Regions from separate parts of the Homo sapiens genome. Here region 1 is linked to region 2. Evidence: fine-mapped expression QTL. A gene starts in region 2. The other region holds a variant in brackets. All regions are shown on one strand. Distances are between the middles of the regions. Region 1 has its middle 53 kb from the start of LIPC. Region 2 holds the start of MINDY2 (MINDY lysine 48 deubiquitinase 2).

Evidence for each region.
Region 1: its variant is fine-mapped to the expression of MINDY2 in lung (TOPMed, PIP above 0.99).

The regions. Positions count from the first base shown.
Region 1 is chr15:58,377,137-58,381,531 of GRCh38, reverse strand. No RefSeq gene overlaps it. Among named protein-coding and RNA genes, the nearest start is that of LIPC, 53 kb to the left of the region's middle. The variant G/T (reference allele first, on the strand shown) is at 2,553.
Region 2 is chr15:58,768,874-58,773,268 of GRCh38, reverse strand. MINDY2 (MINDY lysine 48 deubiquitinase 2) reads right to left here and starts at 1,967. Exons shown (of 9, transcript NM_001040450.3): 1 at 1,034-1,967. The coding sequence starts at 1,873. MINDY2-DT (MINDY2 divergent transcript) reads left to right here and starts at 2,295. Exons shown (of 2, transcript NR_135474.1): 1 at 2,295-2,882; 2 at 4,390-4,395. RefSeq lists a silencer at 2,013-2,292 and an enhancer at 2,105-3,030.

The DNA of each region.
Region 1 (4,395 bases), 390 kb after region 2:
TCAATAAATTCCTGAAGGAGAAAGAAAAGAAGGAAGTGTTACCATGATTATATCAATAAGAACATAGAAATAATTCAGGAAAATGTTCAAATTCCCTAGGGTCAAGACCAGGCCTGTGTTACCTATGTTAAGGGAATAATTTAGTCTACAAAAACAGGTAAATAGTTTTGCTACAAGTAAAAAGCTGATGTTCCTAGAAAGTCTGGGCCAAAGATGGATCAGCCCAGAACATTTGTCTTAACAATGAAATAAGTAATCACAATCAGACACTTTTTTTTTTTCTTTTGAGACAGAGTCTCACTTTGTCACCCAGGCTGGGGTGCAGTGGCCCCATCTTGGCTCACTGCGCCCTACACTTTCCAGGTTCAAGCGATTCTCCTGCCTCTGCCTCCTGAGTAGCTGGGACTACGGGGACACACCACCGCCCCCTGCCGCCCCCCAGCTAATTTTTGTATTTTTAGTAGAGACAGAGTTTCACCATGTTAGCCAGGCTGGTCTCAAACTCCTGACCTCAAGTGATCTGCCCGCCTTGGCCTCCCAAAGTGCTGGGATTACAGGCATGAGCCACGGCACCCAGTCATCAGACACTTATTTTGTAAAGAATTATTGAATTCACCCATACATGGTCTGTGTGGATATAGTCTGGAATCCAGGTGAGAACTGATGGAGTATTTATGGAGAAATGGCTGATTATAGGACAAGGATTTCTAAATATTCTAGGGAACTGACTAATATTTCCAAAGATTTCCTATTCTCCAAGCACAGGAACCAGCTGGAGTGGAGCCAAGGCTCAGGCTTGGTCGGGGCAGAGCAACTCCTCTATTTCACTTGTTAGATGTCCTAAACCATTTTGTCCAATGTTATTGATGCAAATTGGTGGTTGTGATGGTTAATTTTATGTGTCAACCTGACGGGGCCTTGGGTGTCTAGACTTTTGGCTAAACGTTATTCTGGTGTATCTGAGAGGATGTTTTTTGATGGGACTAACATTTAAATTGATAGACAGACTGAGTAAAACAGATTGCTCTCTCTAATGGGGCTGGGCCTCATCCAATCAGTTGAAGACCTGAATAGAAAAAAAAGGCCAAGTAGGAGGAAGTTCCTTCTGCCTGACTGCTTGAGCTGGGACACTGGTCTTTTCTGCCTTTTGGCTCAGACTAAAACATTGGCTGTTTTTGGGTCTCAAGCCTGCTGGTTTTTGGACTAGAACTTTCACCATCTACTCTCTCGATTCTCAGGCCTTCAGACTCAAACTGGAACTATACTTTGACTCTCCTCAGTCTCCAGCTGCCTGACCACAGATCTCGGGACTTCTCAGCCCCCATAATCTTGTGAACCAATTCCTTATTTTATATATGTATACTGTCATGCTCTGCATAATGACATTTAGGTCAATGATAGATCACATATACAATGGTGGTCCCATAAGATTATACTACTTTAGCTTTTCTATGTTTAGATATGTTTAGATACACAAATACTTACCACTGTGTTACAACTGCTGTCAGTATTCAGTACAGTAACATGCAGTACAGGGTTTTTAGCCTAGGACCGATAGGCTCTATCATATAGCCTAGTTGTATATTTGACTGTATCGTGTAAATTTGTGTAAGTACACTTTATGTTGTTCCTGTAACTGAAATGCAGATCCAGTCATTCACTGCTTGCAGAGTCCAATTAACAAGAGTGAGGTCTGATATAAAGGAACTGCTTTATATTCTATTATAAAGACACATGCACATGTATGTTCATTGCAGCACTATTCACAATAGCAAAGACATGGAATCAGCCTAAATGCCTATCAGTGGTAGACTGAATAAAGAAATGTGGTACATATACACCATGGAATACTATATAGCCATAAAAAAGGAGTGAGGTCATGCCCTTTCCAGAGACATGGATAGAGCTAGAGGCCATTATCCTTAGCAAACTAATGCAGGAACAAAAAATCAAATACTATGTGTTCTCACTTGTAAGTGGAAGCTAAATGATGAGAACACATGGACACACAGAGGGGAACAACACACACTGGGGCTTATTGGAGAGTGGGGGTGGGAGGAGGGAGAAGATCAGAAAGAATAGCTAGTGAATGCTGGGCTTAATACTGGGGTAATAAAATAATCTGTACAACAAACTCCCATGACACAAATTTACCTGTATAACAAACCTGCGCATGTACCCCTGAAATTAAACTAAAAGTTAAAAAAAATTCTTCCAATCTATGAACATGAGATGTCTTCCCATTTATTTGTGTCTTTTAAATTTCCTCCATCGATCTTTTATAATTTTCAATGTACAAATTTTTCATCTCTTTCGCTAAGTTAATTACTAAGTGGTTTCTTTTCGTTGCTAATATAAATGAGATTGTTGTTGGTGTATAAAATCACCATTGATTTTTGCATCTTGATTTTGTATCCTGTAACGTTAATAAATTTGTTTATTAGTTCTAAAAAAAGTGATATATTATATTTCAAAGCTAGCTTAGGGGAAGAAGTACAGGCTTCTTGTCTTAAGGGTAGCAGGTGCAGAAAGTAGGAATTATTTTAAAAGGG[G/T]GCTTGGCATGAATGGCATGCAGGGGAGAAAGCAATTGGATGGAGGTCCACATAATTCGCTTCAGTGCCTTATCTACTGGGCCATTGAGCTGGCGCCTTCATGGGCAGAACTAGGTTTTAAAAGTGTCTGAAACTCTCCAGGTGGGAGAGAATTTTGTAGTGGGCATACTTAGGCTTGTAAATTGAGTGTTGCTCTCGAGGCAATCTTCAGCCGGGAGAGAGTTCCACTCTGGAGCCCCTAAGCATATAGTTAGATGAACTTGCCCTGTAGGGAATGTCTGGTGATGGGGAGGTCTAAGTAGGAAGTGAGGAACAGGGGAAAAGGAGAAAGGAGAAAAGAAAAGAAAAAAATCATTCTGTTTTTCTTAGACGAATGGGAGTACTTGGTTACATTCCTACAATGACAAAGCTGCCTTCATGACTCATTTCTCAGAAAACAGTGCTGTAGTTAAGCGATGCATGACTCTATCTGTCTATCTATCTGTCTGTCTATCTATCTATCTATCTATCTGTCTATCTATCTATCTATCTACCTATCATCTATCTATCTATCTAATCTCCTATTGGTTCTATTTCACTGGAGAGCCCTGCCTAATACAGTTGTTTTAATTATTCCTCATTTCCAATGTACTTTCCTCCTTGACTTTCATTATGGGTGGAGCAGGCTCTGTTTGATTCTAAAATTATATGAGGAAAATATAAAGAGATAACCACAAAATTGCTAATTTTTTTGGTGGAGGGAATCTGTTATGTGGATAAAGGATTAGTCTTAATACTATATTCAAGTTAAGTTATTAATTCACTGAATTTTTATGGAGCACCTACTGTGTGGTAGGACTATTCCAAAGAAGCAATGATTTCTGCCCTTGTGTATGTATGTTTTATTTTTATTTTTTAATTATTATTTTCTTTGAGATGGAGCCTTCCTCTGTCGTCCAGGCTGGGGTGCAGTGGCGCGATCTCAGCTTACTGCAAACTCTGCCTCCTGGGTTCAAGTGATTCTCCTGCCTCAGCCTCCTGAGTAGCTGGGACTACAGGCGCCCACCACCACGCCCAGCTAATTTTTGTACTTTTAATAGAGATGGGGTTTCGCCATGTTGGCCAGTCTGGTCTCAAACTCCTGACCTCAAGTGATCTGCCCTCCTTGGCCTCCCAAAGTGCTGGGATTACAGGCATTAGCCACCCTGCCAGCTGTGTGTTTATGTTTTAAACAAAGGATAGAGACAATAAGCATGATAAATAAGTCTAACTATATTGTGTGTTAGAGAAAAATAAAGCAGGAAAGGGGAGTGGGGAGGGGTTCAATTTTAAGTAGGGAAGTCCTAAAGGGCTGCATTGAGAACTGTATTAGAAAAATGACCTGTACGAAAGTGTATTAGCTTCCTATTGTTGCTGTGACAAATGACCACAAACTTAATGGCTTAAAACAACACAAATTTATTCTCTTAGAATCCTGGAAGTGAGAAGTCCCAAATTGGGCTCCTGGGACTAAAATTAAGGTGTCAGCAGGGCTGTGTTTCGTTTGGAGGCTGTAGGAGAGAATTCATTTTCATGCCTTTTCCAGTGTCTCTAGGCTACATTCCTTGGCTTGTGGCCTCTTCCTCCATATTCAAAGCCAGCATTATCAGGCCAACTCCTTCTCACACTGTCATTTTTTTAGTTCTTGTTCCTTTGCCTCCTTCTTCCATTTATAAGGACTCTTGTGATTTCACTGGGCCCCCTTAGATCTTCCAGGATGTAGAATACCAAAACTATGCCACTCCAAAATACGACTGTAGGAGGCCAGAATGTGCTACTCCAAAATATGCCTCTTTAGCATGAGGATTATTTTTGAGCTAATTAT
Region 2 (4,395 bases):
GTATTGCCCAGGCTGGTCTCAAACTTCTGGGCTCAAGCGATTGTCTTGTGTCAGCCTCCAGAGTAGCTGAGCTTACGGAGTAGCTGGGATTACAGGCGCACACCACCACACCCAGTTTGTTTTGTTTTTTTTTCCTAGGAAACATTGCATCTACAGATATAATTATCAATTTGAAAATAAAATAGGTGCTGTGAGATGCATCTTCTCAGCACCCTAACACTGCAAGCTTAAATGAGACACTTCATTTGACAGGTAACTCGCTCTGAGTCCTCAACATACCTATTTTTAAGGGTCTTTCCCTTTTTTGCTCCTTCACCTTAGACATACCTTTTCTTATTTTAGTTCTTTAGAGTTTTAGCTCCCTTAACACATTCGGATGCATGGTTACTGGTAATAATGCCAAACCATTTAAGGAGAGCCAAAGAAATGAGGCAAGTAAAAATCATGCATAAAATGAAAACAATCTTTGAAAACCAAGAAGTTACGGTAATTGGGTCTCAGACCAATGCTTTTCCTTAAATGGAATTTGTCTAAAGAGCCACATCTTCCCCATCACCATTCTCTTAAGTATCTACACACAAATGGGGCATTAGTTGGAAATCAAACTAAATATAACCATGAAAACTTAGTCCATGATATCACGGATTGATGGTAACTTCTGAAGATTACTTTCTCCAATTCTTCACTTTTTTGCATATGTGATAAGGTCAGTAAGAAAATGTAGGAAATTATAGTTTAAAATAATCATAAGATTTAAGATGCTCTAAGTCCTTCTTGTTTCTAAGTGTATCAACCACAATTGAATGTTGAACTCTTAAACACTACAAGAGAAGACTGAGGTTAGGGGCAATTCTTTTCGATATATGTATAAAGGAATATTCCTTCAACATGGAAGTCTTGGAATGAATTTCATGTAAGAAGGGGACTGATGAATGAGGAAAGAAAGGAAGCCATCACCTGACATGCAGCAGCTCCCTCACCCCGTTTTCCTCCACCCCAAAAGCTGTAGGAAGTAGAAAGCTGCAGAATGTACCTTCCAGGCCAGGAGCAAAACATTGAGGATGGCCAGCAAGGGGCAGGGTCCGTTCTCATTCTGGGTGATGATGGGTGTGTTCTCTTCCTTCCACTGGATCCACTTGATGTGATACACAGATTGTCCCGGGAAGCGTTCCTTGGAGGCCGCCAGCACCTGAGCGGTCTCCTCCCCCTCCTCCTCCTTGCACAGAGGAACAGCCCCGGGCAACACCGCCGCGCCCTCCTCCTCCTCAGGGACCCTGTTCTCCGCTCCCTCCTCACTATTGAACTCGCAGCTACTGGGAAAAGAATGCAGGTTAGAGAACGACTCCAGAGAGTCCAGGCTCGGAGATTCCCCAGGAGGGCTCGGGTCGCTGCAACTGCTGCTGAGGCCGCCGGCGCTGCTGGGCTCTTCGGAGCCGGCGGCGGTCAGTTCTGCTTGGCAGGTGCCGGCGAGATCCGGGCGGGCTCCCGCGTCTCCGGCGGTACCCAACTCATGACCCACTCCGGCCACGGCTGTCTCCGGGGAGGCGGTCACCTTGTACTGCCCTCTCAGAGGCGCCTCGGCGGCAGCAGGACTCTCCAAACCACTGTCCTTCAAGTCCAAACCCGCGGAGGAGCTGCAGGGTCCGGGAACCTCAGGAGAGCCCGCGGGAGAAGCCGAGTCCGGGAGGCTCCTCCTGGCGGCCGCCGCCCCCAGCCCATTCCCGCCGCTGGTCTCCGCCGCCCATACCCCAGGACCATCACCAGCGGCGAGCCTGGTCTCCTGTAGCCCTTCCTGCGAAGAACCTGTCCCTGACGCTGGCCCGGCCGCCACCCCGTGTTCTAGCGGCTGCAGGCTCTCGGGGCTGCTCTCCATACCGGGCCGCCCGCCCCCAGCTCTATGGAGACCGCGGCCACTTCTCCGCAGCCAGCGCCTTGGACGCCATGACAGCTGTATTGGCAGCAACAGCGCCCTGGCGCGGCCTCGGTCAGGCACGTCACCGGGGAGAGTACTAAGAACGCGCGCGGGCGCGCGCTACCGCTCTGTCCGTGCGCTCTGAGCTTGCCTCCGCCTGACTGCGCGCTGAGAGGCGAAGGCGAACCACTCAGCAGCCGCCCACGTGGCCCAGCCCTTTCCGTGCGTCCGACCGAGCTCGCTCTCGGAAGGCCGGGCGTGGAGGGCGTGGCTAGGAGGGCGCGGCCGGGGGGCGCGCCCCCGCGGCTCAGCTCCAGTAGGAAAACATCCTCTCACTATGTGGCCGGAAGTTGAACTCCCGGGCAGCTCCCTTGTGTGCGGCTTCTTTAAAGGGAAGGCAGGAGGCGGACAGCTTGGCTGTGACCCTTTAGCGCTGGGTCGCGTGTGGCCCACCCTCGGCCTGAGGCATTGTTGGGTGGTTGGAGGTGGTTGTAGTATTTGGAAAAGAACTTGTCCCTGAAGGGCTCAGGGGACTTGGTTTCTCAGCTCCTAATATGGAAAATTAAGGCATTTCTTACGAGATGCAGATTTTAAAGCAGGCATATCTACTCGACGGCTTTGGATTACTGCACTGCACAAATTCCAGTCTCTGTCGGTTTTGGCTGAGAAGAGCTGTGCTTCTCACCAGCTACTGGTGAGACATTCGCCCTACAGGAAAGGGTCGGTATGATTGTGGACATTGACATGCGTAGCAAAAGAAAGTGGCTAATTTGCGCCAATAATAATAAATTAGCTTGTATTTGAATTAGCCAAGTCTTTGCGGTTTTGCTAACTTGGCTTCACTTTGCATGGAGTGGGAAGCGCCTGCTTCTGAAAAGGTGACTTTTTTCCTAATTAGAATGGACTCCTCTTAAGGCCATGCAGTTTTCAAAGAAGAAAGACAAGCTGGACGTTTTGTTAGTAACAAAATGTATGTGGGTCCTATTCTAACTTGTTACAGAAAAGGGCTTTTTCCCCCATCTTTTTTCTTTCAACATTTTCTAGGCTGTTGGGGATAAAAAATTAACGAGACAGGTCTTCCTTCGCAGACATATAAATACCTGATACATAATTAGAATGTGATATTTTTGCACCTCTGTTGGTTAGAGAAGGCAGACAAGATTGCAAAGTAGTATTTCATTCATTCCTTTAATACATTTTAGTACCAAGTAAGTTGCTGGATGCTGTCTGTCACTGGAGATGCCATAGTGGATCACGGAGCTTATATCTTCATGGAGCTTACTGTCTTTTTTTTTCTTATTGCTATTTTTTAATACATACTTATATGTTTTTTTGTTTTTGTTTTTGCTTTTGTTTTTTTTTTTTTTTGAAACGGAGTCTCTCTCTGTCGCCCAGGCTGGAGTGCAGTGGCACGATCTTGGCTCACTGCAACCTCCGCCTCCCGGGTTCAAGCGATTCTCCTGCCTCAGCCTCCCGAGTAGCTGGGACTATAGGCGCCCGCCACCATGCCTGGCTAATTTGTTGTTGTTGTTGTTTTTGAGACGGAGTCTTGCTCTGTCGCCCAGGCTGGCGTGCAGTGGCGCGATCTCGGCTCACTGCAAGCTCCGCCTCCCGGGTTCACGCCATTCTCCTGCCTCAGCCTCCTGAGTAGCTGGGACTACAGGCGCCCGCCACCACGCCCAGCTAACTTTTTGTATTTTTAGTAGAGACGGGGTTTCACCGTGTTAGCCAGGATGGTCTTGATCTCCTGACCTCGTGATCTGCCCACCTCGGCCCCCAAAGTGCTAGGATTACAGGCGTGAGCCACCATGCCCGGCCACACATAATATGTATTACATATAATACATGAATGTTGGATACTTATATTCTTGTTTACCTGAGAATGCAGAAGACTGTGCCCCTTTTTTTTTTTTTTTTTTTTTTTTTCCCACTTGAGACGCAGTCTCGCTTTGTCACCCAGGCTATAGTACAGTGGCGCCATCTCAGCTCATTGCAACCTCCACCTCCCGGGTTCAAGTGATTCTCCTGCCTCAGCCTCCCAAGTAGCTGGGACTACAGGCGCACGCCACCAGGTCCAGCTAATTTTTTTTGTATTTTTAGTAAAGACGAGGTTTCACTACCTTGGCCAGGCTGGTCTCTAACTTCTGACCTTGTGATCCGCATTGACATGATACTATGGTATATGTCCAACTGTAGGGTCCAGCCTTACGGGGCTTAGCGGGTGTTCTCCCCGTGTTCAGAGACGAGAGATTGTAATAAATAAAGACACAAGACAGAGAGATAAAGAGAAAACAGCTAGGCCCGGCGGACCGCTACCGTAAAGATGCGGAGACCGGTAGTGGCCCCGAACGGCTGGGCTCGCTGATATTTATTGCATACAAGACAAGGGGGCAGGGTAAGGAGGGTGAATCTTTTAAGTGATTGACAAGATGAAGCAAGTCACGTGATTACAGGATGGCGGGGGCCTTCTCTTTTAGGTAGCT